Homo sapiens: one gene and its partner. The protein of the gene in region 1 interacts with the protein of each later gene in a pairwise test. Each region holds a gene or a part of one and is shown in the gene's direction. Other genes may lie near its edges.

Region 1 (3,823 bases):
GAAAGCTTGTCCGGGACCTTTGAGTGTGTTGGAAGCTACCTTTTGATATAGCGCTCAGCGTTGCAGCCTCGTTGCTGTGGCTTATCCAGAACATAGCCCGGCCCTACGTGTTTACTTTAGAAAGCCCTTCCAGGCTCTTTGCCATCTAGTAGAGTCCCTGCGGGCCCAGCCTTTCAGAGAAGAGGGGGGAGGGGGTGATGTTTATTAACTTTTTTTAGTCTTGGCAGCTGAACCTGCCTGTGAGCAGGTCGTGTATTTCTCGGCTTCCCTTATCCAACTTTGCATTTCTATTTCTAGCATATTGGGTTGATTCTTTTGAAGCTGCCTCTGTGCACATTACACCCATGAACTTAGACCAGTTGCCTTTATGTATGATCGTATTTATACTGAGAAGTTACTGTGTTTTTTGACTTTCTTTTCTATTTGCTACATATTAGTTCGGTCTAAACGTTTGGTCTTCTGGTCTCCATAGTTCTACATTGGTTAAATGCAACTCACTTCTGGGAGTAGTGGTGACATTCAACTAGTAGGCTTTTTAATAAACTACAGAAGTTCATTACTCTCATGTAAGGAAGGAAAACTAATGTAACTTTCGTTAAGTATGAAAAGCGTTGGATATCCTTATAGTTCTTTAGAGTTAAGGGTGAGATGGGTTTAGAAAGTGGCCAGGCACAAGTTATTTTAAAATAAAAAATCTTTGGCTGTTTGTTCCAATATATTAATAGTTTTCCCTTTTTTACAGCAACGCAGTGTGCATATTTTATCTGGTTCTCCGAGCTCTGGACACACTGGAAGATGACATGACCATCAGTGTGGAAAAGAAGGTCCCGCTGTTACACAACTTTCACTCTTTCCTTTACCAACCAGACTGGCGGTTCATGGAGAGCAAGGAGAAGGATCGCCAGGTGCTGGAGGACTTCCCAACGGTGAGTGGGGTTACGCATCTTGTCTACGGACTGTTGTGTTCATAATTGCTAACGTGGTTGTCCGGTAGCCTCCATACATGTGGAGAAAGGTTAAATAAGCATTCTGAGGGCAGCATAATGTGAGGGTTAAAAACTCCGGTAGCCAAGACTCTGAAGCCAGGCTGCCTGGGTTGGAATCTCAAATCTCCCACTTACTAAACTGTTGGTTACTTACAAAGACTCTCTGTGCCTCAGTTTCTTCATCTGTAAAATAGGGGTAATAATAACACCTACCTCATGGTATTCTGAGGATTCAAAGAATTAACGTAGGTAATGCTCTTAGAATGTTAGCTACTGCTGTTATTATCAGTATTGGAAGTCCAGTGTTTCTTCCTGTGGGAAGACGCAGTCAAATTTTAGTGTTGTGAAAGATTCTCAGGCTAGCTCACAAAAGCCTGCCGACTGTATGATGCAGCCTACCTGTAACACTGCTGGCCTCTTGACTACCCGGAGCCTGGTAGCATGGGACTGCTGCTCACGATGGGCAGCAGCCTGGCATGGGGGCGGTGTCTGTTGGCAGCTAGGGCGAGCCTCTGCCACTTCACCTGTGATCCTGGGCAAGTTCCTTATCTGCTTTGTGTCTCCGTCTCCTCGTTTGTAAAGTTAGAGCTGAGAGGATTAATTTCGCACATATAAAGTACTTAGTGCCTGGTACAGGGTAAGTATTCTGTAAGTATTAGCTATTTGGTCTATTTTGTTGGAGTAAAGTGGGTTATAGTTAAAATCCTAAGATTTTTAAAGTCCCTCAAGTTCATGTGGACATCTGCCTAGGTCCTACTATCCTAGAATTCGCATGTCTTATCACACAAATAACTGATTCTTCCATATCTTATAAATAAAGGTTTGATTTAGCAAAGTCACATGTTGTGTAATAGCTCGAAGAAGCCCTTTTTGTCCACAGTTGCCAGAGCTTTTGGAGAACAGTCCTTATGTTATTGAAACAAACCTAATCTGTAGCTGAGTTGGGAGGGAGCTAAGTGGACAGAGAGTCCTCCACCCAAACAAAAGAATCTTTGATTCTTGGGCATAATGGGAGCAATATTTAAAAAAAAAAAAAAAAAAAAAAAAAGGAATGTTTGGGGAAGACTCTTGCGGTGCAAAGGCTGTTTCAGATTGCTGAGATCAGACCTTAAGTACCAAAGCCCAAATATAGTACAACATAATACAAATGAGAAGAAAATAGCTGAAGAATAATTCGAGTTTATACAGTACAATTCAAGAGAAGAAAGAAAATTTATGACGACTAGCTGGGTGAGAATTAGAACTGTAACCCTGGGAAGGTCCTGGTGATTTGACTCTCACAGGACACCTGATGACCAGAGGATGGGTTTCCTTTGATGGGAAATCTGTGGCGATTCATTGATGGGCCTCTGAATTCTGCTGAAGCAGAGGAAGTAGTAATACCCCATTTATAATGGAAGTGCATTCTCACTTAAAAACAACTAATATTATTCTAGCTGGACCTAGCCTCTAGAAACAGCCAAATTACATTTGACTTGAGTGGATTCATAATAATTAAAAAATTTCTGGGGCATGGGATAAATGTGTTAGGTATTGCTAAGTCAAGGCAGCCCTATCCCCTCAGCAGAAGTGAGGGAATATGAAAGTGTGTGAATGCTAACATAATTTTGGGGAATATCGCCGTCAGATTTCCAGATGATATTCCAACATGTTTGTGAAACTTCAGTGTCTTCCTGTGTTCATACAGTGTTCCAGTGGAAAAATAATGCTTAGTTCTGGAAGGTTTCAGATGTGAACACTGAACTCATCGTTTTCTTTTTTGGGTAGTAGAGTTAGAGATTCCATCCTCTTGAAAGCACAGTTGCCCCGGGAAGAGTAAAAGGGAGCAGAAGGCGTAAGCCAGGCACGGCTGTTTTCACTGTTGTTCACCTTTTGTATCCTTACGAATATGAAGATGTACTAAGTTGTGTGTTTTGCGTGCATATATAATTTTAAGCTACTTGAGTTGTAGGTCCCTCCAGTCTGTGATTCAGTTTGAGATGGGACTGTATGGGAATTAACAGTGCCTTGTCTTCTTAAGGAGTGATTTGTGTATGTGCTGATATAGCTCAGTATGTCTTTGAAACCAGTTGTCTGGGGCTAGGCCTGCAATCAGCTTTTGGCTAAGAGGTCCCAGGATGGAACAAGTAGTGTGAAAGAGGACTGATACCTTGGCCTCACACACAGTACTGCTCTTAGACTGGGGCAAGTGAAACTCCTCACTTCAGAGTGCCCCATTCTAGGCCCCCTCACTCCCAAAGGGGTGAGGGATCACTGGGGCCATGGGAATGTGCTTGTTCAGCTCTCGTGGGCTCTCCTTCTGTACCACGTTCTGGACATCTGGAGTTCCTTGCCCCAAATCCCTGAGCCCACGTCTGCGTCCGCACAGTCTATTTCCTAAGGTCAGTCCATCTCCTCCAGGTGGGAACGTGCCACCATTGACTGTGCCCTTGGGCCTGAGTGATGGCCAAGGGCTGTGTTGGGGAGTGTTGTGGATGGATCCTGGCACCGAGGGCTGGGATATCCTCTCAAATGAATGTGAGGTGCCTCCCAGTGCTGGAGAGAGCGGGATTCAGGAAGCAGTGGAAGGGAAGAGCCTGGGATATGGGGATCAGCTGTCTGTGCCCTGCTGCATTCTGGAATAAAACTCTGAGGGACTAAGAATTCTAAATTCAAACCTGAATCAACCAGGTTGTTACAAAGATAAGTTTGTCAGTGCAGGAGGATACAATATATTTTACTTAAGTTACTAGCTCGATTGATCATTTTTAAATTTTTAGCTACATATAGTATGTGGGCCTCCATTTGTCCTCTTATCCCAGGCCTTGCAGAATTTAGGAATAAGCCTCAATACAGTG
Region 2 (3,823 bases), on another chromosome or scaffold:
TTTGTTTTGAGATGAAGTGAGGGTCCTTACAGAGGGCAGATTGGAAGCCACTTATCAGGAGTGATTCTCCTCAGGGAAAAGGGTAGCAAAGACTGGCTGCTACATAATTATATGAAGTACTTACATAAAGTCAGGAGTTTAATTTCAGAAATGCAACTAGTTGCAATCAATTAATTAAATATTTTTTTCATAGGCAGTAGGGAGTCCAAGGAAAATTCAGAAAGAAACTAGAAAATCAGGGAACAAGGACACAGATTCTGAATACTTGCCATCAGACACCTCTGATGATGATGATGATCCTTACTATTATTATTATAAGTCCAGGAGAAATCGCAGTAAATTGAGGAAAAAGCTTGTTCCATCCACAAAAAAAGGAAAAAGTCAACCATTTATCAATCCCGATTCACAAGGTCACTGTCCAGCTACTAGCGACTCTGGAATAACTGATGTTGCTATGTCTAAAAGTACATGTATCTCTGAATTCAACCAAGAACATGAAACAGAGGACTGTGCTGAATCTCTAAATCATGCTGATAGTGATGTACCACCTTCTAATACCATGAGTCCCTTTAACACCTCTGATTACCGCTTTGAGTGTATATGTGGTGAACTTGATCAGATAGATCGTAAGCCTCGTGTTCAATGCCTGAAGTGTCACCTGTGGCAACATGCAAAGTGTGTGAATTATGATGAGAAAAATCTGAAGATCAAGCCTTTTTACTGCCCCCACTGCCTTGTTGCAATGGAACCAGTGTCAACAAGAGCAACTCTGATCATCTCTCCAAGTTCCATCTGTCACCAGTGGGTGGATGAGATCAACAGGCATGTGAGGTCGTCATCTCTTCGAGTCTTGGTAAGGCCACTTGGACTAAAGAGGGAGAGGAAAATGTAAAGTTTTGCTTCTTCATGATAGTTTCCTAATCTTTGTTTCTTTGTGGTTTATCCTCAAAACTAACTGAATGATTTAATAGTAATGTTAAATCAAAGCTTAAAGAAAAAAATTGAGACTAAGAACTAGAACAGTACAATGTTATTCTTTTCTAACATCAGAATTTCACCAATTAAAGCATTTTGAGTATAAAGATGTGGAAGCTTTTTAAAAATTCTTGAGTATGTAAATGAGAAATTCTTGGTATAAGCATTTATAGTCTTCAGAGAGAAATGCAATCCAAAGGCAGCACTGTGTAATAGGAGCTACTTATCTGATCTGCCATCTCTTAGCTCCAAAATCATCCTCTAAAGCTTCAGTTACCTCAGCTGTAAAATAAGAATTTACTTATACAGCAAATCTTTATTGACCACTTATTATGTGCCAGGAACTGCTGAGTTTTAAAAATAGTATCCAGTCATTTGTGAAGATATGATTTTGTCAAGTACTGGGCACATAGTAATGTTATTGTTTCCTAATATTAATACCCTTCACTAATTTCATTCTTCCTTCTTTCCATGCAAGTGTTACTGAAGGTTTTTGTATTTCATCCACTTTACATAGGCATGGAGAATACTGTAATAAGCAAAACAATTTTTGCTGTTAAGAAGCTCTATTCTGTGTGGGTAGGCAAAGCTTTGAGTCTTAGTTCCATCAGTTTTGAGCAAGTCACTTTATTTTTCTTATGTGTGGGATAGGAATATTAACAACCACCAACAGAATTATTGTTGAAGTTTGGAGATAATGCTTAGCACAGTATCTGAAACATAAAAGGCATTTCATAAATAATAGCTCTTATTGTTCTACTTTTTCATACCATTGTGCTTTCACATATGCTATTGATTCCATCCTCCTACCTACATATAGCCCTTTTCTCTTTTTGCCACCTATGAGAACCTTTAAGATATACCTCAGGTTTTAACTCCTCTGTGATTTTACCTTCTCCGCTACAGAATTGGTCTTTCCACTGTGATGCTGTCATGTTCACATTTATTACAGTTTGTTGCACATCAGTTATGTAATTCATCTTCCACACTAAAACATGTCTTTCTCCAAACAGGTATGGGATCTGTCTCATAGCATGAATGCTCCTAAGAAAATAGAGAGGACTTAGTAAGGGTATAAATGAGTGAATATTTCATTGCCTTTAGTGAGCCTTTTTGCAATAACTGCCTGTATTGATTATTTCCTAGGTATATCAAGGAGTGAAGAAAGATGGCTTTTTACAACCTCATTTTTTGGCAGAACAGGATATAGTTATCATTACCTATGATGTACTGCGTTCAGAATTAAATTATGTCGATATCCCACATAGCAATAGTGAGGATGGGCGTCGCCTACGGAACCAGAAGCGCTATATGGCTATCCCGAGCCCCCTGGTAGCTGTGGAGTGGTGGAGGATCTGCCTTGATGAAGCTCAGATGGTTGAGTGTCCCACAGTAAAAGTGAGAGTTTCTGCAAAATCTTTTGAGGGCTGGGGAAGAAGGGTGAAAAGGAATTAGGGGACCTTGAGTAGTTTAATAGTTTAAGCATAGTTAACCTGTAGTACTGATATTGGTCAAAAGTTTGTTATTAAACACTACTTGTGCTTTTCTCTTGTGCTTTGAACTACATAACCCTTTGAAATTAGTTCTGTACTCTGTGACTCATTGCTCTATATGAAATATATATTTTTCAGTAAGATGTCTGTTTATATATGATGCAGATCAAAGTAAACTGTGTTTAGGAACTTCTGTAAGCATTTCTGCTAACTGGGAGCTCATCGTGTAGCCTCTGATAGCTTTGAACCAAAGTTGACTTTGACAGTCTTTTAAATCAGAGGCCAAATGGTAACAGAAAATACTACTTTAGAGGACAGAATTTTGATTCAGCCTTTGAATGTCATATGTCTTTATTCTGTTGTCTTTGGCCAGTCTGTAACCTGAACTGAATGTATGAATCATGTCTGTTAGTATATCTGGAGGATAGAGTGATGCAGGGCATGGATCAGTTATTCAGGGGGCTTTTTCATTTTGTACGTATTTGAACTACCCCTCTGTTTTAGGGGACTGCGTGGCAGCCTCCCACTAATGAGAACCACTGTACTGGAAGATGGTCCATTGAATATGACATTCAACATTGAGTGTGATAACTGTTAAATAAAAGTAGGTACATCTCACCAGAAGTGTAGCTTTTAATGGGCTGTTTTTCATGAGTATGCCTGACTTCTGTGTTCTTTCTGTGGTTTTCTGGATTTCATTTTTATTTCATTTTTCCCTCTCATCAGGCTGCAGAAATGGCCCAGCGTTTGAGTGGGATTAATCGATGGTGTATCAGTGGCACTCCAGTACAGAGAGGATTAGAGGGTAATGTATGGTTTCCTCACATATTGCATGCATTTGAAAAGCTTCATTTTTTAGAGAGAAAAGTATTGTTATGCTTAACCTTTGCTGCAGTCCCTATTGAAGTGATGATTCATGTCTTTATAGTTGACTCCTAATAGTTTCAAGCATTTATCTTTTTAAATGGGACTCAGGTGATTTTTCTGTTTATGTATATGAGGACCGATATATATTAAGAGGTCTCATTGCCTTAAGTTGAACAATTATTGTACCTGCCTAAACAGCATAGATATAGGTCTGAATTAAAATTAGAGTTCCAAAGTCATAGGTAGAAAACAAAGAATCTAACCCAAAAAGAAACAAAGGGTGGGGGGGGTGGGGAGAGGCAGAAAAAGAGAGAAAGGGAATTAATTTCAATTAACTGTGTCTATGAAAATGGAGACTATAATTTTTATTGTGTGAACCCAGGAATACTAGGGCCATAATTTTAGTAATTATATAAGTTATTAGTAGTCTTATAATGTCACACTATATGTATATACCGTTATTGTTTCTACCATTCCTTTACTTGAGC

What was found.
Region 2: the proteins of FDFT1 (region 1) and SHPRH interact in a two-hybrid assay, tested with the Homo sapiens proteins (one large-scale study listed by BioGRID and IntAct).

Annotation. Positions count from the first base shown.
Region 1 is NC_000008.11:11,808,925-11,812,747, forward strand, and holds part of FDFT1 (squalene synthase), read left to right. Parts: intron 1-216; exon of another isoform or gene 217-566; intron 567-742; coding exon 743-926; intron 927-3,823. UniProt on the Homo sapiens protein: Catalyzes the condensation of 2 farnesyl pyrophosphate (FPP) moieties to form squalene. Proceeds in two distinct steps.
Region 2 is NC_000006.12:145,940,173-145,943,995, reverse strand, and holds part of SHPRH (E3 ubiquitin-protein ligase SHPRH), read left to right. Parts: intron 1-193; coding exon 194-853; intron 854-2,121; coding exon 2,122-2,373; intron 2,374-2,972; coding exon of another isoform or gene 2,973-3,050; exon of another isoform or gene 3,051-3,072; intron 3,073-3,194; coding exon 3,195-3,273; intron 3,274-3,823. UniProt on the Homo sapiens protein: E3 ubiquitin-protein ligase involved in DNA repair.